7 linked regions of the Homo sapiens genome follow. The protein of the gene in region 2 interacts with the protein of the main gene of each other region in a pairwise test. Each region holds a gene or a part of one and is shown on either strand. Other genes may lie near its edges.

Region 1 (3,209 bases), on a different chromosome or scaffold from region 2:
GCATTTGAAAACTATTTATTTCAGTCAGTGGAAAGTCCCTGAGGAAACTGCTTACAAAACAGTTTCTAGGACATTTTCTTTGTATGTCATCATTTTTCTTTTTTGAAGGACAGTAGCTTCATTGTTATTATTAGGAATAAATGGAAGCCCACTGGTGGTAAAAGATAGTTGATGAATTAGAGATTGTTTAAACTATTTAAGCAGCATGACTCACTAAAGATTTTTTAAATTATATGTATATACGTATGTGTGTATGCATCTATATGCACATATATAAGTCTATGTAGACATACATTAAACCCCTATAGGTTATATTATCATGGAGGCGTTTTTCATGAAGCCAGTAAGAATGTATTTCCAAGGAATATTTTGCCAGCAAATGTGATATTAAATTACTTCAGAGTATCTGATGCTGATTTAGGATGTAAATGTGTTTATTAGGTTATGCATTAATTTTAATGGTGTGAATATAAGAAAGCAGATCTTGAAAAATTTCGATGTACTCAATATTCATTTATTATAAAAAAGTTTTATATTCTAAGCCTAAACCGTAGTACAATGTCTAGCAAGTAGTTGAAATTCAATTCATATATACTGAGTAAGAAACTCTTATATATAATAGATCTCTTTGAGACTCTGATAAAACTGAAGAACTCTACAAAATGGCGTACAGACACACAGTTTTGCATACAATTTCACTGGGTTCTTGAATCTCCTAAATGGTATTCAGGTTAGATTCCTTGGTGATTCTTCAGTTGTTTCTATTGCATTAATCCACTTATTGAATGCTATTTTTCTGAAAAGTGCTAGATCCTGTAGAGGATACTGAATGTAAAATATTGTGCTCTAAAGGAAGTTACATTATACAATAGAGATATGGTTTAAAAAAAAATCCTAGAGTTACTGCATTATGTATGTGGTTTTATAATGATGTGCTTGTATCTGAGAAACTGAATTGCTTTTGACCTTGGGAGAACATCCATTTTGGGCAGTATTCGAATTTATAAAATAGTTTTATAATCATAAAACTTAATTTATATAATGCCTTACACATTCCATACTCTTTATAATAATTTAAGGACTTAATCTTATCAAATAGGTCATTTGTCTAACAACTCAGTAGTATATGAGGAAATTGGGGCTCAGCAGTAGGGTTTTTTCTCCCTAAGGTTAGTAATATGAGTCATCTGCAGTGGAATTACTGTGCTCACTTCAGCAATTTCAGACTCCAATGTCTGAGGAAGGATTCATGTCTGTTTTTTTCATTCATGGCCTTGAACAGTGTCTGATATAGGTTCTCAACCTATACACTAGATTTCCACTGACTGAAAAAAAATAAAAGCAAGTATTAGCTTAATAATTTCTTCATTCAACACCTATTTAATATTTTTAATAATCTATTTGTGCCATGCACTGTGTTAGACACAAGAGATAAAGAAATGATTAAGATACAAGACTTTGCCTCAAGTTGCTCACGGTCTATATTGTGTGTACAAAAACAACCAATCAACCAATGTTGGTATTATTTGACAGTGTTGGTACATCAATGAGTTCTTTGTAATCTTGATATTTATATCCATGGATGCTGCTTGAAGCCTGAACTCCTAAGCCACTAATTAGTGGTGGGAAGAAAGAGGGGGTAAATGCTTTAAGAGCTAGCATATAACAAAAATGAATTGGGTTTATTCTGTATCATATAGAGGGCCTAAGAGGCAAACATTTCATAGAGTATTCAGAAGAACATAAGGAATGACTTTTTTCACAGTTAACAGCTGTCCAAGAGTGTAGTGGCTGCCTCGTATGATAAAGCATCTGGAACTCATTGAAAAATGCATGTAGAAAATACCAATCAGAGCCTGATTGATGGGATTTTTAATTACTGCTTTAATATTGGGACTGAATCATTTTGTAGCTCATTAGAAACATGGAAAGTATTTGTTAAATAAATAAGTCATGGAATTTCAATTCTAAGGCCATGAAAATTAAAACACCCTACCATTATTTATCAATAAAACACAGTGCAGTTTTGCTCATCAGAATTTTGCCTATGTGATAGCCTCCTGAGAGTAGGCAGAAAAGAAAGACATAGAACGCAGTGCGTGACTTACAAGGGAATAAAACTGACAGAGGTTAGTGTAAGGTATATAGGCATGAGTGGGGCTTAAAGAGGATATGGGAGAACACTGAAGACAAATATTAGTACAATTCCTATAAGGTAAATACCAATATGTCTTTCTAGAAGAAGCAATTGTTTTGGAATTGAGGAAACCTAGAATGGATTTATCTATATGACTTGGACAGGTTACTTATACTCTTTGGACATTTATTTCTTCTCAGCAAAACAAGGGTAATAATATTTAACTTGCAAGATTCGTGGAGATAAAAGCTTAAATAAACGGCAGAGTACAGTAATGCTTATATACGGGATGCTAAATAAATAACTCTCACTGTTATTACTTTGTATTAAGATATTATCTTTGCCCCCTCGTGGCAGTCTCTCAACAAAGAGTACTGTAATTGCATTTAATCCACTTAGTGGATGTGGAGCCCAAAGGGCAGCCATCACTAGAGCAGCGTACAGGCTTAGTTCCAGACTTCGTGTTTGGTTGTTCATTTCATAGGCGAGCCACGTGTTTTGTAACATATTCTCGTATATGTTATTTGGATTATTTTCAGGGCTTTCTGAAGAAAATAAACATCGAAATCATAGTTTGTGTTTATGCTACATTTATTGGGGTTGTCAGGAAAACAGAGTCCATGTAATATGTGGAAATAAGGGAGTTATAGAAATTTAACCTAACATAAACAAAGGAGGAGCTTGAAAATGAATGTCTGGAAGAGGGAAATTGGCAGATAAGAGAAAGATTCACTCATCTACTTGAAGCACTGGTGTGGGCTGACAAGTGGGAACTGAAGCTCTGTGAAGTCCAGCATGTCCAATCACTCAAATGGTTCCCAGCCAGGGGTTCTGAAGGGGGGCTATGGGAAACCAGTGCCTCTGTGTAGGTTCTAGCTCTGTTGGTCTGTGAGCAAACACCTGGTGGTGAACCTGTGCCACCATGGGTCAGTGAGGTCAGAAGGCAGGAAGACAAGCTAGATGTGGAGTAAGGAAAAGTGAAGACAGCCTGGAAATCACTGGGTATCTAACCTTAATGACTTGTGTTTCACTTCTACCTTAACAATCTCACCATAATTCCTTTTTCTGGGCC
Region 2 (3,500 bases):
AGCTACTCGGAAGGCTGAGGCAGGAGAATCACTTGAACCCGGGAGGCAGAGGTTGCAGTGATCCGAGATTGTGCCACTGCACTCCAGTATGGGCAACAGAGCAAAATTCTGTCTCAAAAAAAAAAAAAAAAAAGCACAACTAAGTGTTCCTTAATGATGGGTGGGGTTGGGAGCAAGAGGATGGGGACCTATCTTTTCCTCCTAGGAGATAAGGGTTCCTCTCTGTTATTAGAGTTTGATAAACTGAAAGTGTCTGTTGGTTGGCGTATGGTTCTTTAGGATGATTGACAGTGGCAGTACCTGGACTAACGTGACTTTAGCTTCTTTTGGATGATTCCCTCTTGTCTTTCTGACCTTAGGACCTTCTACCGCTTTGAGGCTGTGTGGGATAGCTCTCTGCATAACTCCCTTCTTCTGAACCGAGTGACACCCTATGGAGAAAAGATCTACATGACCTTGTCGGCCTACCTAGAGGTGAGGAGACTTGGAACTTCAGTTGATGCCAACAGTCAGCCCTGAACAGTGTGCAGGTTACAGCAGGAAGTGGTCAGCGAAGATTCCACTTGTTTTGTCCTCTTTCTTCCTCCACATCCTTAAGTTTTTCATTTTATTATACATTGCTAACTCTTCTGATTATATTAGACTCTATTCCTGGGTTCTGTTTACTCAAAAAATCACATGACTCATTGCAGCTTCAGCTTTAGTAGCCTAATCACCATTGTTTGAAGAATGTGTGATTTTTAAGAAAATGTCACCTCTTGTTTTTGTAGTTGTGGACAGAGTGTAATAGTGGTTAATAGCCCAGACCCAAGACCCAGCCTGTCGGTTCAAATCCCTGTGCTGCCACTTACTTCCTCTATGTCCTTGGAGAAACTCTCTTTGCCTCAGTTTCCTCACCTATCAGGAGAAACAACATTTACCTCAGATAAAAATAAATGCATCTCTAAGGAGTACTACCTACTCTTGCACATATTATCCATTGGGTGGCTGTTGAAATAATTGGTGGAGCTAAAATCCTTCAGTTCTCACAACTGGGACTCGCTTTCCAAATACGTTCGTGTATAGACTCTAGTCACAGTACTCTGCCTGCACTTCATCAGCACCTACCCTGTCTGCTTTCAGCTGGATCATTGCATCCAGCCGGCTGTCATCACCAAGGATGTGTGCATGGTCTTCTACTCCCGAGATGCCAAGATCTCACCACCACGCTCTCTGCGTAGCCTCTTTGGCAGCGGCTACTCAAAGTCACCAGATTCGTAAGTTTTTCACACAAGTTAGCTTCCAGTGTGTTTGTTCAGTACAACAGAATCATTAGTCCTTAAGTATTCTCGGCTTACTGTCTCACGGTTAGTTTACAGTTTATGAACCATTTTGGTAACTGACACCTGGAATGTACTGACTTGCATGCTGACATTTAATAAAATGTTGATGGATGGACGAGTTATGAGGGAAGGAAGGAATATTACATTGTGAACACGTCTAAAACAATTTTGCAAAGACTAAATTTGCAAAGACTTTTAAATGTCATCATCATTATTTCTAACAGAGTACCATTGAAATTTTCTTCTTTTTAAGATTTGTTATGCATATTTAAGGCATACAAAATATGTCAGGAATAATACAGTGAAGGCCATACACAGTGGCTCATGTCTGTAATCCCAGCACGTTGGGAGGCTGAGGACAGAGAATTGCTTAAGCCTAGGAGTTTGAGACCAGCCTGGGCAACACAGACCCCATCTCCACAGAAAATTTTAAAATTACCCAGGTGTGGTGACACACACCTGTAGTCCCAGCTACTCAGGAGGCTGAGGTGGGAGGATCACTTGAGCTTGGGAGGTTGAGGTTGCAGTGAGCCATGATAGAGCCACTGCACTCCAGCCTGGGTGAAACAGTGAGACCCTGTCTCAAAATTTAAAAAAAAGAAAAGAAAAAGGAAAAAAAAAAAAAAGAAAGAAACAATACAATGAATACCTGTGTATCACCGCCCAGCTTAAAAATAAGTGTTACTAATACAATAGAAGGTATTATACCTCCTACTACTCACAATCCCCAGAAGTTGTTGATTATCATTTCATTCTAGTCATTGTTTCCCTCATATCGTCTCTCTTATAGTAAGAAAAGACAAATTTTTAGTTTTCACATTTATATTTTAAATTTTCTAGTTTATCATTCAATTTTATTCACCCTATTGAAATAAAGTGTTTAAAAGATAGAGATGAGGTGGGGCATGGTGGCTTATGCCTATAATCTCAGCACTTTTTGATGCCAAGGTGGAAGGATCACTTGAGGCCAGGAGTTCAAGACCAGCCTGGGCAACATAAGGAGACCCTATCTCTACAAAAAAACTTAAAAATTAGCTGGGTATAGTGGTGTATGCCTGAAGTCCCAACTACTCAGGAGGCTGAGGCAGAAGGATCACATTAGTCCAGGAGTTCGAGGCTGCAGTAAGTTGTGATTACATCACTGCACTCCAGCCTGGGTGACACAGGGAAACCCTATCTATAAAAAAATTAAATTGAGATGAAAGCGGACTCCTCTAGGAAAAGGTATGCTACTTAGGTTCAAAATAAGAAAAGAGCGGTGACAAATAAGAAATGCCTGGAATTATATTTGAGTCCCTGCAGAGAAGACACTATTTTAAGTAGCAGAAATTGAAATTTTCCTGTTTTTGTGCTTTAAGAGATTAAACAATTGTTTTATTTTCTTCAAATAGGAATCGAGTCACTGGCATTTACGAACTCAGCTTATGCAAAATGTCAGACACAGGTAGTCCAGGTAAGCTCTTGTGGATTGAGGAGGTGATAGTTATCTTTGTGTATGTTTCAAGTATCCTGTATTTAGGCTGGGCACGGTGGCACACACCTGTAATCCCAGCGCTTTGGGAGGCCAAGGCGGGTGGATCACCTGAGTCCAGGAGTTCAAGAGCAGCCTGACCAACATGGTGAAGCCCCCCTTTCTACCAAAAATACAAAAATTAGCCAGGTGTGGTGGCGCGTGCCTGTAATCCCAGCTACTCAGGAGGCTGAGGCATGAGAATTGCTTGAACCTGGGAGGCAGAGGTTACAGTGAGCCGAGATTGTGCCACTGCACTGCAGCCTAGGTGACAGAGTGAGACTCAGTCTCAAAAAAGAAAAAGAAAAAAAAATCAAATTATTAAGTCAGATTTGTTCTGTATTCTTTTTAATGTGTTTTTAAACTGCTCTTGTTCCTCTAGCTAGGCGGAGTTAAGCAGCACTTAGCATTTCTATGTTTGTAAACCGAAACATGAACAAAAGTTAAGGTTTTCTAATAGCATTTGATTAATGTGAGTTTGAGTCATTTTACAGAATATACATGGAAAACAAGTCAGGGCCCACAGGCAAGACTTAGATAAGTAAAGAAGACTTTGAGTATGAATCCAAGTAGCACCTAATTATTATACTATCCAGATAGTTTCTTGAGGAATTTTTTTAATTAATATAAATTCATGTATTTAATATGTAAAACCAGCATAATACTAA
Region 3 (3,500 bases), on a different chromosome or scaffold from region 2:
TTGTGCTTTGGAATCCACAAAGCCCTAAGAAGCTCTCTTATGTCTTTGCCCTTCCCTGTTAAGATTTCCAGTTGCAAAATGTCAGAAGCTCGGTCTCGGGCTTCTAGACCCACCTCTGACCAGAGTCATGACCTGAGCAAGAGCTATCCTGGGGACCCCTGGGACAAGCAGCCCCATGCCCCATACCCCTGCCCATTCTCAGTTCATTTAGTTCAGCAAACACTGAGCCAGGTCTCCCTGGGTGCCAGGACCTGCGTGGGGAGCCATAGCCCCCAGAGTGGTACAGGAGGCAGATGCTACACAAATAACCATCACACAAGTCAGAGATGAGAGATAAGAGGCCGGGCACAGTGGCTCATGCCTGTAATCCCAACACTTTAGGAGGCTGAGTTGGGAGGATTGCTTGAGCCCAGGAGTTTGATACCAGCCTAGACAACATGGTGAGACCCACTGTCTCCAAGAATACCTACCTGGCTAATTAAAAATTAGCCAGGTGCAGTGGTGCGTGCCTGATGTTCCAGCTATTTGGGAGGCTGAGATGGGAGGATCACTTGAGCCCAGGAGGTTAAGGCTGCAGTGAGCCATGCCTGTGCCCCTGCACTCCAGCCTGAGTGACAGAGCAAGACCCTGTCTCAAAGACAGAGAGAGAGAAGATGCAGGCTTAAGGTAGGGAGAGGTCTTTGCCCTTGAAGAGACCTGGGGCTTGGCCTTAGAAGCTTCCAAGTAATGGGCCCAGTCACTCATTTCCCTGTTCAGCACGTGTATCGAGCTTCTGCTATGCATCAGACCCAATGGGAGGCAGGAGGTGAACAAGACAGAAAGAGGTCCTGCCCTCATTTCAGGGGGTAGACAAGAAAAAGGTGGTTGTAACACTAGGGACTGAGGCTGAGGGGACTTGGGAGTCTGTCTGGGGCTTCTATTCCCAGCAGGCTCTGGGATCAGCCTGCCTAGTGCATCTGGAATATCGTACAGGCTCCATCCTCCGCCGCTGGAAGCGGAACTGGTTTGCCCTGTGGCTGGACGGGACCCTGGGATACTACCACGATGAGACAGCGCAGGACGAGGAGGACCGTGTGCTCATCCACTTCAATGTCCGTGACATAAAGATCGGCCCAGAGTGCCATGGTGAGCAGAAGCCCCTTCCTCTGTGGCACCGTGACTGTGGGCAGAGCCTCCCGCTGTCTCCGAGAACACTTGCTGTTGGAAGTCTTTTTGCAGCTTTCAGAGGCATTTCACAGACATTGCTTCTGAGCCTCTGTCAACTCCAATTCAGTTTGGTGTGAGTTAAGAAATAGGTCCTTGGCTGTGTGTGGTGGCGCATGCCTGTAATTTCAGCACTTTGGGTGGCTGAAGCGGGCGGATCACTTGAGGTCAGGAGTTCTAGATCAGCCCGGCCAACATAGCGAGACCCTGTCTCTTAAAAAAAAAAAAATTGGTGAGATGCGGTCACATATGGCTACTGGGGAGGCCGAGGCAGGAGAATTGCTTGAGCCCAGGAATTCAAGGCTGCAGTAAGCTATGATCCCAGTACTTTGAGAGGCATGTAGATTACTTGAGTCTAGAGTTCAAGACCAGCCTGGGCAACATGGCAAAACCCCGTCTCTACCAAAACAAAAACAAACAAAAATTAGCCGGGCATGGTAGTGTGTACCTGTAGTCCCAGCTACTTAAGAGGCTCAGGTGGGAGGATTGCTTGAGCCTGGGAGGCAGAGGTTGCAGTGAGTGTTCATGGCACTGCACTACAGCCTGGGGGACAGAGCTAGACCCTGTCTCAAAAAAAAAAAAAAAAAGAAAAAGAAAAATCAGTCCTTTAGTGCCTTTCTCCTCTGTGCTGTCTCAGAGGTGAGCCAGGCACAGTTCCTGCCCTCCAGGCGCTCGGTACTGGATGAAGACGAAATGAAATTAGGAGGCCCAGAGAAGCGAAGTGGCCCAGAGTCACAGCAAATCTCCACATTCCTCCACCAAGGCCCAGGCCACAGTTCTAACAGGGTAACTGGGAGGTGTGCTGAGGGAAGCCTCAGCATGGAAAGGTTGGAAAGGTTGGAAACGTAGAGTGGAATCCCTCAGAGAGTATATGGGATCAGAGGAGGTTGGCAGTGGCCAGTAAACAGAGCCCAGAGAAGTCAATTCCTATTCCTGTCCCTGCTTTACTGGGGGGACCTGGGGCTTGTGCCTGTGGAAACCCATATATGTGTGTCTGCTTCCAGATGTGCAGCCCCCAGAGGGCCGGAGCCGAGATGGCCTGCTGACTGTGAACCTACGGGAAGGCGGCCGCCTGCACCTCTGTGCGGAGACCAAGGATGATGCCCTGTGAGTCACTCCCAGGAGAGGATGGGGTGGAATCTCGGGGAAAGTTACCATGTGCCCCCTTCTCATTGGGCCTTCTGGTTCTCTGACCGTAGGAAGAGGGCACTAAGGCCAGTCAGCAAGGGAGTCTTATTGGAGGCGGGTGGAGTGGATTTGAAGGGCTTGTGGTGACTGGCATGGCACACAGTGAACTCCTCATGTGGTCTACAGTGAACTCAGGATTGCTGAGGGGGAGGTGTGCACACCTGCCTCAGGTATCTGGTTCCTGGTCTTTAGCGGCCTCTGAGGTGAGCCCTCACCTGAGGGTGATGCAAAGCAGCAGAGCAGCCTAGTGGCACCCTTGCTCCCTTCTTAGAAGATGCCCTGGTGGGGGACTCTGATCTGAGGGGTAGCCCTGGACCTGCCTACAAAGGCAGTCAGCTGCGTCCCAGGCAGGGGCACCCCAATGTCAGATGCATATCCACGTGGCCAGCCTGGGTGTGTCCTTCTCAGGCACCATCTGCTGGCTCACATTCCGTCCCTTCCTACCCTCTGGCTAAGGGGTACATGGCCTTTGCGCTGGAGGAGAGTGAAAGAGATGGGTGTGTGGGAGTGGGGGAAGCTGAGCTCCAGGCAGACAGCACAGAGCCGCCTTGTCCAACCCAGCCAGGTGCCATGGCAACCAACAAAGGCCCCATTGTCCCGTGTCTGCTGGGCCTTCCTGAGGCTCTGGGGTCAGAGCTTTGGGGAAGTGTTTTGTTTGTAGATTTGGGATGTGGAGGGGGACTGGGCTACAACACCCACCCAAGAGTGTCAGAATCTGACATCCCCTGAGAGACCACCCAAGCCCAACCGTCCACTGTATAGATGAGGAAACTGGAACTTCTAGAGGGGACGAGAAGAATGAATTAGCCTAACTTAGTGCTCCATCCATGTGACTGGGGCAGGGGAGGGGTCACTTTTGTCTTCCTGAGGGAGACAAGAGATCTCTCCTTTCATGAGAGACTTGGGCTTGAGGCTGGGTTGGAGAGGAAAGTCTAAAATGTGGGGGCCCAATTCACCCACCCCCAAACTCCCTCCTCATGGTCTGGTGGGATTTGCTTTGCAGAGCATGGAAGACAGCACTGCTGGAGGCAAACTCCACCCCGGTGAGTCTCCCGTTCTCTCCCCCTTTCCCCACCACCTCCATGTGCCATGGAATCATGAGTGACTCA
Region 4 (3,433 bases), about 100 Mb from region 2:
CAAGGTTTAGATGCTGGGGGATCACTGTGGTTCTCTCAATGGCTAAGTGCCTTTCCCTGCCATTTCTAACTTCAAAGTACATGACTAAGTTATAGGCCAGAGAAATCACTGACTCATATCCAAGGTCCAGTATCCTGGACCCTCAGGGTCACTTGGAAATAGTTTTACAATAATGTTGAATGCCCAGCTGTGCGCAGTGGCTTAACGCCTGTAATCCCAGCACTTTGGGAGGCTGAGGCGGGTGGATCATATGAAGTCTAGGAGTCAGAGACTAGTCTGGCCAACATGCCGAAACCTTGACTCTACCAAAAAGTACAAAAATTAGCCAGGCGTAGTGGTGCACATCTGTAATCCCAGCTACTTGGGAGGCTGAGGCCCGAGAAGTGCTTGAACCCTGGAGGCGGAGGTTGCAGTGAGTCGAGATCACGCCACTGCACTCCAGCCTGGGCAACAGAGTGAAACTGTCTCAGGGAAAAAAAAAAAGTCAATGTTCTATGTCTATTATATTTGCTTTTTATTTCTTAGACATATGATGTGCTTTCCTGGTTAATGCTAACTCTTTTTCAGCATTTCTGCCATGCAGCCTTTTTGTTAGTTCTTTGTGTTTGTGTCTTATTCCCCCTGCTGAATTCCAAATCCTTTATTATTTTTCTATTTTTTGTAGAGACAGAGTCTTGCTATGTTGCCCAGGCTGGTCTCAAATTCCTGGGCTCAAGTGGTCTCCTGCCTTGGCCTCCCAAAGTGCTGAGAGATACAGGCATGAGCCACTGCACCCTGCCCCAAAACCTTTGAGGGTAGAGGAACCATGTATTCATCTTTTGTACACCACCATGGTGCTTGTCCCAGAGCTTTGCTTTTTTCAAGTGAGCAATAAATTCCTTTTCTTACTTCTTATCCTGTTGGCTTTCTATGAATTCTAGGGCTAGGAAAGAACTATGGAAACTGGTTTAATTCCATCCTTCTGCCTCAGGGAAGGGCCACATTCAGACTACCTGGGAAAGTCTGGTAAAATGACTGTAGAAAAGGTTTCCACAGCTTCTAATTAACATGTAGCAGTGACTTTAAAGTTTTTTACATGTAGACCTCCTAAAACAGTTTTGAAAATCTGTGCCCCCTCATACATTTTTAAACTGATACCTAAAAATGCTTATTTAAGTAGTTGCAGAGAAGGTAATTTCTGGCATATAATTTATTGTGTGCTTATTTCAAGCATATATTTGTCAAAATTTTAGATTCGCAGGTTAACGCTACTTAGTTTGCATGAATGTCTACCAAACAGCCTAACTGGCAAAAGCCAGTCTGCATTGTAAAGCCAGTGGACCAAGATAGACTAAATTTTCTGTCAGAAAAAGTCTGACTTTGTTTTTAAATTCAGATAAAGTTGTTGAATATGTCCTTATCACAATGATCTATCATATTTTTTAGTTCTCATTATTAGACAGAAACAGAGTTAAGTCACAGAGCCATACTTGTGTTTGTGGTGTGACTGAAACAAGATCAGCCCCCTTCATTGAATTTTACCTAGATGCTCTTTCTTTTTGCTCTTTGGTTCTTATGGAAAAGCCCCTTTTGTCCCTTAGTTTAGAACCCTTATATTTTTATACCCCTGAGCATTGTAGCGTGGAAAGATCTGGGATGAATGACAGGTATGTGTTCTTTCTATGAAGTGGGAGAAGAGTGATTGAAAACAGAGGCAGTTCAATTTTAAGAAAGAGAACATTAGAGAAATTGGCTCTCTTAATACTATTAGCGCCCAGAACTCCCTCAAAAGTTTTTGTATACTACTTGGAGGTGTGTGTACTCCAGTATGAAGACTGCTATTCTAGAATTATTTAGCCCTCACGTCTAGGATGCCTAAACTGGAAATTCCTTTGTTATTCTTACTAAGCCCCTAATTTCTCATTCATTATCTTCACTAATACGTTTTTTTTTTACAAGGCTTTTTAGGTTTTATAAGTCTATAAACTTCTCCTCTTAGCTTTTGTCTAATCCATAATCTCCCACAAAATTTGTTAAATTGCATCATGAGACCAGCCCTCCCTCCCTCCTGCCCCTTGATTATTCCTGGGCTGGCCCTCTAGTAATGCTTCAGCTTGTTTTCTATCATATTTCTCTTTCTCTCTCCTTTATAGCTCATGCTGCTCAGGTCACTTGTGTTGCTGCCTCTCCTCACAAGGACTCTGTGTTTCTTTCATGCAGCGAGGTAAGAGATAGCTCCTTCTTCCCTAAACACACTCCAGCCATCCATAGGCCAAAGTCTCTAGTGGGGAGACTTTCTGGCCTGCAACTGCTCCTTTGGATTATGAAATCCTTTTTCTGTTCCACCTTCCTCTAGGACAATAGAATTTTACTCTGGGATACCCGCTGTCCCAAGCCAGCATCACAGATTGGTGAGTCTGAGATTCATTGGTGGGAGAATAGTACTTGGAACCCTGATAGAAGAGACTGTCTTTGGCCAGTGTCAAAGCATAGTTGCTAGATGCCCAGTGTAGTTACTGTGACATGAGTGACATAATCTCCTTCTTTTCCAGTGAGGCTCTGCTAACCCCATTCTGTGCAATGAATACCAAGAGGAAGGGCCAGTTCCTGGGTGGGTGATTTACTTTATTAGATGGTAGGACAAAGGGGCCAGAATTGTTATCGTCATGATTCGTGCCTGAAACTTGCCTGTGACTCGTGTCCAGAAAGGGCAGGAGGCTGCTGGGATAAATGGTTATGAGGCTCAAGGATGAGGACACTGCTGCCTTAGCAGGGTTTGGGAAATCAAATAAAGGTGCTCCCAGGATTTAGAGTGATATCATTTGAGAAACTGCTTCTTCTGTACTCTGAGTTTTGGTCCAGACCCTCGTCTCTCCTTTGCAGGCTGCAGTGCGCCTGGCTACCTTCCTACCTCGCTGGCTTGGCATCCTCAGCAAAGTGAAGTCTTTGTCTTTGGTAAGGCAGCGTGTCAGACTTCATATTGACTCTGGGAAAGGGGAGGAGGAAAAAGAAAGAGCTGACTCCACAACACACAAGGCCCTTGTTGCTCAGTCTTAGCCCTCATGGACACTAGATGAATTATGAATTGAGGGTGGGGAGGTGGGGTGATGCCAACGTAGTTTTAGTGTAGTTTTGGAGAACATGATTATTTTCCCAGTGGATTTGATTTTTGATTGATTGATCCAGCTTCTGTATTCTGGGCATGGCTATAAGTCAGTGATCCACAAAGCAAGTGGATTGCTATATAGCGAATTCTGTCCTACTGTGGGTAGGTGTAGCGCTATCGTGGTCATGAGGCTGTGTATATGGTGACATAGTTTGTGGTTAAAATAATAACTGCTTCGTTCATTAACTTAATTTTCACAATGATCCAGTGACTTATTATTCCTACTTTGCAAAAGAGAAAACTGATGCTCAGAATGGTTAACTTTTACAAGCTCGAGGAACTAGGATT
Region 5 (3,500 bases), about 140 Mb from region 2:
TAAAAATTAGCCGAGCGTAATGGCACATGCCTGTGGTCCCAACAATTTGGGAGGCTGAGGCGTGAGGATTGCTTGAGCCCAGGAGGTCGAGGCTGCTGTGAAGCATGTTTGAGCCTCCTCACTCCAGCCTGGGCAGCAGAGTGAGATACTGCCTCAAAAACAAGACAACCACCCCCCTGCCCCCTGACAATTCTGTTGTAGGTAATTGAAATTTTGTAAATTTTTGGTTAAAAAAAAAAAAGTCTATGGTAGCGGAAAATATCTTTACACTTTTATTTCCTCTAATATTATTTGAGCCAAGGCCTTCATCTCTGCTTACAATTGCTATAGTATCAGAGAATATTTTGCTAACCACACTTGTAGTTACCATTTTGTTACTTTACAATAAGAACTATCTAAAGAATTGTGCACAGTATTCCCAGTGAGCACACTTCTCTCCTGTGAGTTCAAAGCCTGCCTCTGCTACTAACTAGTTTTGCCATCATGAACAAATCTCTCAACCTTTTTCGTTCTGAGTTTCTTCACAGTAAAACCAGGGACTTAAACTTTCAGTGATTCTCAGCTGAGGAGGCACAATACCTTAAGTGGAACATATTTGAATTTCAGGGGAGAAGGGTGGCTTTGCTGTTTTTAAAAGAAATTATTGGCTGGGCACACTGGCTCAGGCCTGTAATCCCAGCACTTTGGGAGACCGAGGCGGGTGGATGACGAGGTCAGGAGATCAAGACCATCCTGGCTAACACGGTGAAACCTCATCTCTACTAAAAAATACGAAAAATTAGCTGGGTGTGGTGGCAGGCGCCTGTAGTCCCAGCTACTCGGGAGGCTGAGGCAGGAGAATGACGTGAACCCGGGAGGCGGAGCTTGCAGTGAGCTGAGATCTCGCCACTGCACTCCAGCCTGGGCGACAGAGCGAGACTATTATTAATAGTGTAATCATCTGTTGAGGAAACTTTTGAAAATGTTGTTTTCATCATATAAGCTCAGAAGGTTAAATTGGGCATTATTTTTGACTGGTGGGACAGTAATTTAAAAGGGTTTTAAAATGCTGAATTAGATTATGAGGATACTTGTGACTAATTTTTGCATTATATAATTCTGGCAAAGTAACCAATAAATAGACATGTATCATAATTATATAGAGAGAAGACTTGCATACTTTTGATATTTCCCTTTCTCCTAATTTCCCAATCTATTGAGGTAACGCTTATAATCCATTTTTTACTAGGAATCTACAGATAATGGATTTTAGTCTGCACTCATTTACTGTCTATCCATGTATGTAACTTTAGGCAAATAACCAATTTGTATTTATTTTTTTCTGGTGAAAAGGCAATAAAAACTATTCTGTGCACTTCCCAAGGGTATTTTGTGGATCATGTGACGAAATAACAAAGCATAATACTTTGTAAGGTTTCAAGTTCCATATGTTTTAAAGATATTATTTAATATCAGAGTATTACTTCTGCTTTTTTCTTTTGCCTTATATGTATTTTTTATTTTTAATTGACACATAACAATTGTACATATTTATGAGATACAATGTGATGTTTCAATACATTTTATATGTGTAATGATCGAGTCAGGGCAATTAGCATATTCATCTCAAACATTTGTCGTTTCTTCGTGGTGATAACATTCAAAATCCTTTCTTCTAGCTATTTTATTTTGTTACATTATTGTTACCTATATTCACTCTACTGTGCAACGGAACACTGGAACTTAGTTCTTACAATGAATTTGGTGGCTCACACCTGTAATCCTAGCACTTTGGGAGGCCGAAGTGGGAGGATCACTTGAGTCCAGGAGTTTGAGACCAGCCTGGGCAACATAGTGAGACCCTGTCTCTACAAAAAAAATCAAAAAATTAGCTGGGCATGGTAGCATGTGCCTTTAGTACCAACTACTCTGAAGGCTGAGGTGGGAGGATCACTTGAGCCCAGGAGGTCAAGGCTGTAGTGAGCCGTGATCAAGCCACTGCACTCCAGACTCGGTGACACAGAGCAAGACCCTCTCTCAAAAAAGAAACAATAACATTTAAATAAAATATATTATAATATATTTCTCTTCATTTTTGTATATTGTATTCTTGTCTGCATACTTTTTTTCATTTTTTTGAGATGTAATTTATACATCATAAAATTAACTCTTAAATTGTACAACTCAGTAATTTTTAGTATATTCAGAGTTATGTGATTATCACAACTATCTAATTCCAGAGCATTTTTATCACCCGCAGAATAAACCCTGTACCCATTAGCAGTCACATCCCATTCCCTCCTCCCCTCCGTCCCTGGCAACCACAAGTCTTGCTGTCTTAAGGATTTGCCTGTTCTGGACATTTCATATCAGTGGAATCCTACAATATGTGGTCTTTTGTGACTGGCGTCTTTCACTTAGCATAATGTTTTCAGGGTTCATCCATGTTCTAACCATGTATCAGTACTTCGCTCTTTTTTATGGCTGAATAAGAGCCCATTGTGTGGACATACTGTTTGTTTATCCATTCAGTAGTTGATAGACATCTTGATTGTTTCCACTTTTTGGCTATTATAAATAATGCTATTATGAACACTGGTGTACAAGTTTTTGTGTAGACATATGTTTTCATTTCTTTTGGGTATATACCCAGTGTATAATGCTGGGTCATGTGGTAACTTTATGTTTAACTATTTGAGGAACTGCCAAACTGTTTTCCAAAGTGGCTGGACTACTTTACATTCCCTCTAGCAGTGGGAATAGTGTGAGCGTTCCAATTTCTCCATTCCTTTGTTGACACTTATTACTGTCTGTCTGTTTGATTTTAGCTGTCCTAGTGAGTATGAAATGGTAGCTTATTGTGGTTTTGATTTGCATTTCCCTAATGACAGTTACATACATTTTGTCCTTATTGTTGCAATCATTGTTGTATTGGTAGTCTTAGGAGTTTATAACCTTGTTGTTTGGCTGGAAAAAAGAAAAAATCTAATCTTTTCCCATTGTTTGAAAGTTACAAGGCATCTTTACATCCATTATCTAATTTGATTTCCTTAAAAACATCATGAAATAGGGCAAAGATTATTTTTATTTTATAAAGAAACTGACCATTGTGGAGGGATTCTTCCAAGGTCCTACAGCTGATACATGTAGTAGCTCTTCCCTGAGCCTGGGTCTTTGAGTCTTTATATCTTTGTCTGTCTCCCAAATCATGTTGCTATGTTGAGGAGCTTCATGGTTTATGTCCAGGGGACTCAGATTTTTCCTCTGGTTACCTTACAGCTGTAGATCCCACAGGTCACAAGTTTGTGATCCAGGACTTCTACCATATTTAATGTTAGCTGCCATGTATTGATAGCTTTTTCCATGCATTCTTGCTAATTCTCCAACTCTTTCTCATATTTGTATAAATATCTTTCAGACCTTTCCAGCTCACCCCCAGGGCCTTATGGTCAAGAAATGTATGCGTTTCGATCTGAGGAAAGATTCAAATCCCCACCCATCCTTCCTCCTCATCTACTTCA
Region 6 (3,500 bases), on a different chromosome or scaffold from region 2:
AATACTACATATGAAAATTCATATTGCTTTTTTATTTTTTAAAAAAGCTTTTGTTTTATAAAGGATTTCCTATAGAATTTCTTAAAAATGCTACGTTTTTCAGGATAAGTTATTTGAAATATTCCCATAAAGGGAAAGCATTGCATTTTGGAAATCACTACCTCTAGGAAGAGTTGATTACTTTTTCTTGTCTCTTGATAACACTAATTGGGGCTCAGATATTTCTGAACAACTGTATAGACCGTAATGCCTCACTTGTTCTAAATATTACAACTTTTTTTTTCTCTTTTCTTTGTTTTTTGGTTTTTTTTTTTTTTTTTGAGACAAAGTTTCGCTCTTGTTGCGGAGGCTGGAGCGCAATGGTGCAATCTCGGCTGACTGCAACCTCTGCCTCCCGGGTTTAAGAGATTCTCCTGCCTCAGCCTCTCGAGTAGCTGGGATTACAGGCATGTACCACCATGCCCGGCTAATTTTTGTATTTTTAGTAGAGATACGGTTTCTCCACATGGGTCAGGCTGGTCTTGAACTCCTGACCTCAGTTGATCCGCCTGTCTCAGCCTCCTAAAGTGCTGAGATTACAGGTGTGAGCCACTGCGTCCTGCCTCTATTTATTTATTTATTTATTTATTTTTGAGACAGAGTCTTGCTTTGGCGCCCAGGCTGGAGTGCAATGGCTCTATCTCGGCTCACTGCAACCTCTGCCTCCTGGGTTCAGGTGATTCTCCTGCCTGACCCTCCCGAGTAGCTGGGATTACAGGCGCCCTCCACCATGCCTGGCTAATTTTTTTTATTTTTAGTAGAGATGAGGTTTCTCCATGTTGGCCAGGCTGGTCTCAAACTCCTGACCTCAGGTGGTCCACCCGCATCGGCCTCCCAAAGTGCTGGGATTATAGGCGTGAGCCACTGCGCACAGCCCAACATCACAACTTTTAACCCTGGTCTTCCTCTATTGTGTCAGTAAGAGCATTTTTAAAAATCAGAAGTTTGAGCATGAATAAGAATTTTGCTCCAAGTGATACTATCAAGAAAGTAAAAAAGCCTACTCAAAAGGAGAAAAAATATTTATAAATCATTCTGATAAAGGACTTTGATTTTTATTTTTTGTTTTTGGAGACAGGGTCTTGCCCAGTCACCCAGGTTGAGTGCAGTGGTGTGATCATGGCTCACTGTAGCCTCAACCTACCAAGTAGTTAGGACTACAGGCACGTGCCGCCATACCTGGCTAATTTTGTAAAAAATGTTTTTGTAGAGATGAGGTCTCCCTGTGTTACCTAGACTGGTCCTCAAACTCCTGGCCTCAAGCAGTCCTCCTACCTTGGCCTCCTAAACTGCTGGGATTACAGGCATGAGCCATGATTCCCAGCTAATAAGGGACGTGTATCAAGAATTTTTATAGCTCAACAATAAAAAGACAGCCCAATTTAAAAATGGCCAAAAGTTCTGAATGACATTTCTTCACAGAGCATACACAGATGGCCACTGAGCACATGAAAAGATGTTTAACATATTAATCATTAAGGAAATACAAATCAAAACCATAATGAAATACCACTTCACACCTACTTAGGGTGGCTGTAATAAAAACGTTAGATACTAACAAGTATTGACTGGCACAAGAAGAAATCAGAGCCCTCTCAGACACTGCTGGTGGGAATGTAAAATGTAACTACTTTGAAAAACAATCTGGCAGTTCCTCAAAATGTTACAGAGTCACTAATCCTAGATGTTTACATATGTATGTATATCCTAGGGTTGTGTGGGTGGGGGTGTACATATGTATCCCCAACAGAAATAACATGTCCATACAAAAGCTTGTACAAAATTGAAATCAAGGAATCATTTTTACAGCACTGTTAATTTTCACATGTATTACTACCTCTGGGGTGTTTATGTGATGCATTTATATTCACAGACAGAATGAACATTGTTATATTTCAAGCTTACATGACGTGTCTTTGCTTTACATTCTTTCTTTTTTTTAAATACTGTTTTAGAGACAGGATCTCACTCTGTCAACCAGGCTATAGTAGAGTGATGTGATCACAGCTCACTGTAGCTTGAGCTCCTGGCCTCAAGCAATGTTCCCACCTCATCCTTCTGAGTAGCTGGGACTACATGTGCACACCACCATGCCTGGCTAATTTTTAAAAATTTTTTGTAGAGATACGGTTTCATTATGTTGTCCAACCTGGTCTCAAACTCCTGGCCTCAAAAGATCCTCACACCTTGGCCTCCCAAAGTGCTGGGATTACAGGTGTGAGCTACTGCTGTACATTCTTTATTAATGTTTAATATAACATTGCTCAAATTATAGCTGCATAATTTTTGAAGAGGGACTGTCATTCTATAAAATTGTGCATGATATATGTAGTTATGTTTTCAGCTTACTGTAAAAATCATAAATCTCAGTCCCCTTTCAATTTTTTAATGTGAGTATGGTGAAGGGAAAAGCTAGTATCTTGTTCTGTGGGATAAAATTGCTTATGTCAAATCTGTATTTTATTTCAAAAGTATATTTCCATCAAATTAGGTTATTTAAAGAAAGTTATTTGAGATAAATATGCTTAAAATATTTTTCAGACCACATGAATATTTCTGAACTTACTGTCTTAGTCCACTTTAACCTGGCATTAGAAAGTAAGAACAAGAAATTGAACTTGAAGCCTTTTTTTTTTTTAATATATAATTGGAATTAATTCATTCATAAGAGTGGTACTCTCATGACCTAACGCTTCTCATTAGGTCTCATCTCCCAACACTGCTGCATTGGGATTAAGTTTCCCAACCTGCTTTTTCGGGGGTTCATTTAAGCTGTAGCATTCTGCCTCTAGCCCCCAAAATTCAAATCCTCAATCAGATATGGGTGAGACTCAAGGCAGGATTCCTGCTGAGGTAAATTCTCCATCTGTGGGTCTGGGAAATCAGGCATCTTATCTATTTTCAAAATACAGTGGTAGGATAAGCATAGGATAGACAGTCCCTTCCAAAAAGGAGAGATAGGCAAGAATAAGGGTAACTGGTCCCAAGTAAATCCAAAACTCAACAGAACAAACAAGATTAAATCCAAGGCACCAGAATAATCTTCCTTGGCTCCATGTTTTGCCTTCTGGGCATGCTGGGTGTGGAGTTTGGGCCCCAGAGGCCTTGGGCAGCCCCATCTTTATGGGTTTGCCACGTGCAGCCCACATAGCATCTTATGAGTTGGAGTCGGGTGCCTGCAGCTCTTGCAGGCTGGTGGTGTGCCCTGGTAGCTCAGCAGTTCTGGGATTTGGGGGATGGCTTTTTCCCCATGGCTCCACCAGGTGTTGCTGTAGTAGGAACTGCTGTGTGGCTCTGCCCTTCTGAAAAGTTTCTGCCTGGAGCCCCAGGCTCTTTGTGATGTCTTTTGAAATCTAGAGAGGAAGCCGTGCCTCCACAGTTCCTGCATTCTCTGCATCTGCAGACTTAACACCACATGGACACTGCCAAGATTTGCTGCTTGTACCTTCAGAAGCTATGGC
Region 7 (2,912 bases), on a different chromosome or scaffold from region 2:
GCTTTTCTTTGGAGAGGCTTTGCACAGCTCCCAGCCTCTGCTGGCCTCGGATGGCCCTCCCGCGGCACCTGTGCCGATGGACAGGGTCCTGGGTGCCCGTAGGTTATGGAGCCGGCCCCCTCCTTGGGTCCAGAGCCCCTGGGGATGGCGCCTCATTTTGACCCTGCCCCCGTGGCCTGCGGGTGCTGGGTGTCCTGGCCCCTGCCAGGGTCCTCCTCTGGGTCCCTGTCTCCGCCTCACCTCTGCCTCCCTTCTCCTGTAGAAAGTCCTACCTCCATCTCCGTGGGCCCCAGCACCAGCCGACGGCCCGCAGCCTCCCAAAGACTCTGCCACGCCACTCTCCCCGCAGCCGCCCAGCGAAGAACCAGCCACATCCCCCTGGCCTGCTGAGCAGTCCCCAAAATCACGCACGTCCGAGGAGATGGGGGCTGGAGCCCCCATGCGGGAGCCTGGGAGCCCAGCTGAATCCGAGGGCCGGGACCAGGCCCAGCCGTCCCCGGTAACCCAGCCTGGCGCCTCGGCCTAGGGGAGGGGTGAGACGCTCGCTGCCGTGCCCGCCACACCAAGATGTTGGGGCTGCCTGGCGCCCACTGGAGACAGACAGACAGACGCCTGTCCCCCGGGACCGAGGCCTGTGCCGTCCCCACCCGCCCCAACATGGTGCTCATCCTTGCCGAGACCCCTGCGGTCTGTGCCCGCGCCCAGCCCAGCTGCCCCGGCTGCACGCCTGCTGCTCCCAGCTCGCCCGGCTGCCACAAGCTCTCTGCGGGTCCATCCTCCCCACCGGGGTCCGTCCTCGCAGGCCCTGCCCGGCCTCTCTGCAGACCCTCAAGCGTCGTCTGCATGAGTGAGCAGGCGTGGGTGGACTCTGGCCGCGGCCACACTTGGTGCTCACCAGCTGCTTCGGCCTTCAGGTGACCTCCCTCCCCACGGCATCCTGCTCTCCGGGTGGAAGAGCAGCTTTCTGTCTCCCAGAAGGCATCGCTTTTCCCTCTTGAGCAGATCGGAGCCCCTGGGAGGTTTGGAAGCTGCCTCCAAGCCTAGGACACGGACCAGTGGCCGGGGCGGCCTCTGGCCCCTGACGCTGGCTGAGACAGGCCCGTGGGGCGGGGTTTTGGGGCGTGAACAAGGCTGGCAGTAAGTGGACAAGCTGCTCCCCTGGCTAAGGCCCTGCCCTGCCCTCAGCCAGAGGTGCCTGGCCATGCCTGCACACTCCTCCCCATTTTAATAAATGGTCGCAACTTCTAGAAGTCCTGCTGGTGCCACCTGGTGGGGTGGACGTCTCTCAGACTGCCCTTCTGACAAGCAGGGGTGGGCGCCAGGCAGGCTGGGTCAGGCCCTCAGGGGTCCCTGGAGCCCTGGGAGGGAGGGACTGGGTCGTGGGAGGTCCTGGTAGCTCCCGGCACCCAACCTCGCTTCCCGTGTGGGCCCCGTGTTGCTTTTCTGCTGAGAGGGGCTTGGGCCTCGGTTCTCCCTGTGGCAGCGGCATTGGTGCCTGGGTTCTTAACCCTCTGGACCCAGCAGCTAGGAGCTTCTGGAACCCACGAGGACATCTGCCACTGGCATGGTCTACTCACTGATGGGGTCCTCCTGACTCCAGGGCAGAGACGTCCGTGCGGGAACTGACCGAGGCGTGGCCCCAGGCCCCGGCATCCTCCCCTCGCTGCACGTGGTCACTTCCGAAGCAGCGCTCCCTGTGGCCGCAGAGACAGAGCCCGCACCCTGGCTGTCTGTGGTGCCTGGGCCCCAGCTCCCGCCCGCCACCCGCCCTGTTGAGTGCGGCCTCCAGACTCGAGTCCAGAATCTGTTTCTGTCAAGTCAGTCGTCCCCAGCTGCACACGGGGACTGCTGAGCGCTGCGCTCTCACGGGTCTGTTCCGGACAGAGGGTGGCAGGGGTGAGCCCTGATCCCTTACAAAAAATACCAGCTTCCCAGGGAGTAATGGCGCCTTCACTGAAGCCATTTTGTACATGGGGACGGGGTGGGGACGTCTCTTTTTTGGTGTTGGACGTTTGACCAGTGGGGAGGGGTTCAGAGGCGGCGGTCCTGTCCTTGGCTCCGTCTGTCCGTGTGGCCTTGCTGCCATTCCGTCTGATCATTAAACACAGCTTTTGATACATATGGCCCGGCCTCTGCCTCCGCAGTGCACGGCTTGGGGCATCTGCTCTGTGCAGGTCCCGGTGAGCAGAACTGAGAGCTGGCAGGCCGCCTGGCTGTCCTGCAGAGGACGGATTGGAATTGCCACCGCAGGGCCGGCCAGTGCTGTGAGGTGCCCAGCGTCACTCCCATGGGCTCTGTGGGCCATGTGGTCCCTGTCACGCTTCTCAGCTCTGCCACTGTTGCTGGAAAGCATCACAGACCATGTGTAAAATGGGCCAAAATACCTTTTACAAAATTAAAATAGAGATGGGGTCTTGCAGTGTTGCTGAGGCTGATCTCGAACTGCTGAGCTCAGACAATCCTCCTGTCTCGGCCTCCCAAAGCGCTGCAATTACAGGCACGAGCCACCACGCCCATCCCTCAAGTAATTTTCTCGCCAGACCCTGAAATTGGAATTGTATAGCATCCTCACGTCTCAAAAGAGTTTATTATTATTTTTTTCTCTTTAAAAATGCAAAGACCTGTCTTAGCCGCTTTGGGACAAGGTTTGGTTTCCAGCTGCTGCTGGCTGGCGCTGGGCCTGTGGGCACGTGGGTGATGGATGCGGGTTTGTGTGCGGGCCGAGAGGCCAGTGAGTCCTGAGCATCTGCCAGGCATCAGGGGCTGCTGTGTGTGTTGTTCTAGTCTCACAAAGTTCTCCGCTACGTTAGAGAAAGTGAGACCCAGGCTGGGCATGGTGGCTCACGCCTGTAACCCCAGTGCTTTGGGAGGCTGAGGTGGGAGGATTGCTTGAGCCTGGGAGTTTAAGACCA

The links.
Region 1: the proteins of KIF1B (region 2) and DMRTA1 interact in binary tests that used the Homo sapiens proteins (3 or more experiments, as listed by UniProt).
Region 3: the proteins of KIF1B (region 2) and PLEKHB1 interact in binary tests that used the Homo sapiens proteins (3 or more experiments, as listed by UniProt).
Region 4: the proteins of KIF1B (region 2) and WDR77 interact in binary tests that used the Homo sapiens proteins (3 or more experiments, as listed by UniProt).
Region 5: the proteins of KIF1B (region 2) and PRKAB2 interact in binary tests that used the Homo sapiens proteins (3 or more experiments, as listed by UniProt).
Region 6: the proteins of KIF1B (region 2) and EED interact in binary tests that used the Homo sapiens proteins (3 or more experiments, as listed by UniProt).
Region 7: the proteins of KIF1B (region 2) and SPPL2B interact in binary tests that used the Homo sapiens proteins (3 or more experiments, as listed by UniProt).

Annotation. Positions count from the first base shown.
Region 1 is NC_000009.12:22,453,032-22,456,240, forward strand, and holds the end of DMRTA1 (doublesex- and mab-3-related transcription factor A1), read left to right. Parts: 3' UTR 1-2,709; downstream 2,710-3,209.
Region 2 is NC_000001.11:10,360,570-10,364,069, forward strand, and holds part of KIF1B (kinesin-like protein KIF1B), read left to right. Parts: intron 1-359; coding exon 360-474; intron 475-1,122; coding exon 1,123-1,256; intron 1,257-2,713; coding exon 2,714-2,775; intron 2,776-3,500. UniProt on the Homo sapiens protein: Has a plus-end-directed microtubule motor activity and functions as a motor for transport of vesicles and organelles along microtubules.
Region 3 is NC_000011.10:73,649,581-73,653,080, forward strand, and holds part of PLEKHB1 (pleckstrin homology domain-containing family B member 1), read left to right. Parts: intron 1-972; coding exon 973-1,125; intron 1,126-2,207; coding exon 2,208-2,310; intron 2,311-3,394; coding exon 3,395-3,434; intron 3,435-3,500.
Region 4 is NC_000001.11:111,442,824-111,446,256, reverse strand, and holds part of WDR77 (methylosome protein WDR77), read left to right. Parts: intron 1-2,132; coding exon 2,133-2,203; intron 2,204-2,335; coding exon 2,336-2,390; intron 2,391-2,862; coding exon 2,863-2,934; intron 2,935-3,433. UniProt on the Homo sapiens protein: Non-catalytic component of the methylosome complex, composed of PRMT5, WDR77 and CLNS1A, which modifies specific arginines to dimethylarginines in several spliceosomal Sm proteins and histones.
Region 5 is NC_000001.11:147,162,471-147,165,970, reverse strand, and holds part of PRKAB2 (5'-AMP-activated protein kinase subunit beta-2), read left to right. Parts: intron 1-3,397; coding exon 3,398-3,500. UniProt on the Homo sapiens protein: Non-catalytic subunit of AMP-activated protein kinase (AMPK), an energy sensor protein kinase that plays a key role in regulating cellular energy metabolism.
Region 6 is NC_000011.10:86,258,253-86,261,752, forward strand, and holds part of EED (polycomb protein EED), read left to right. Parts: intron 1-3,500. UniProt on the Homo sapiens protein: Polycomb group (PcG) protein. Component of the PRC2/EED-EZH2 complex, which methylates 'Lys-9' and 'Lys-27' of histone H3, leading to transcriptional repression of the affected target gene.
Region 7 is NC_000019.10:2,352,684-2,355,595, forward strand, and holds the end of SPPL2B (signal peptide peptidase-like 2B isoform 2 precursor), read left to right. Parts: intron 1-262; coding exon 263-526; 3' UTR 527-2,412; downstream 2,413-2,912. UniProt on the Homo sapiens protein: Intramembrane-cleaving aspartic protease (I-CLiP) that cleaves type II membrane signal peptides in the hydrophobic plane of the membrane. Functions in ITM2B and TNF processing.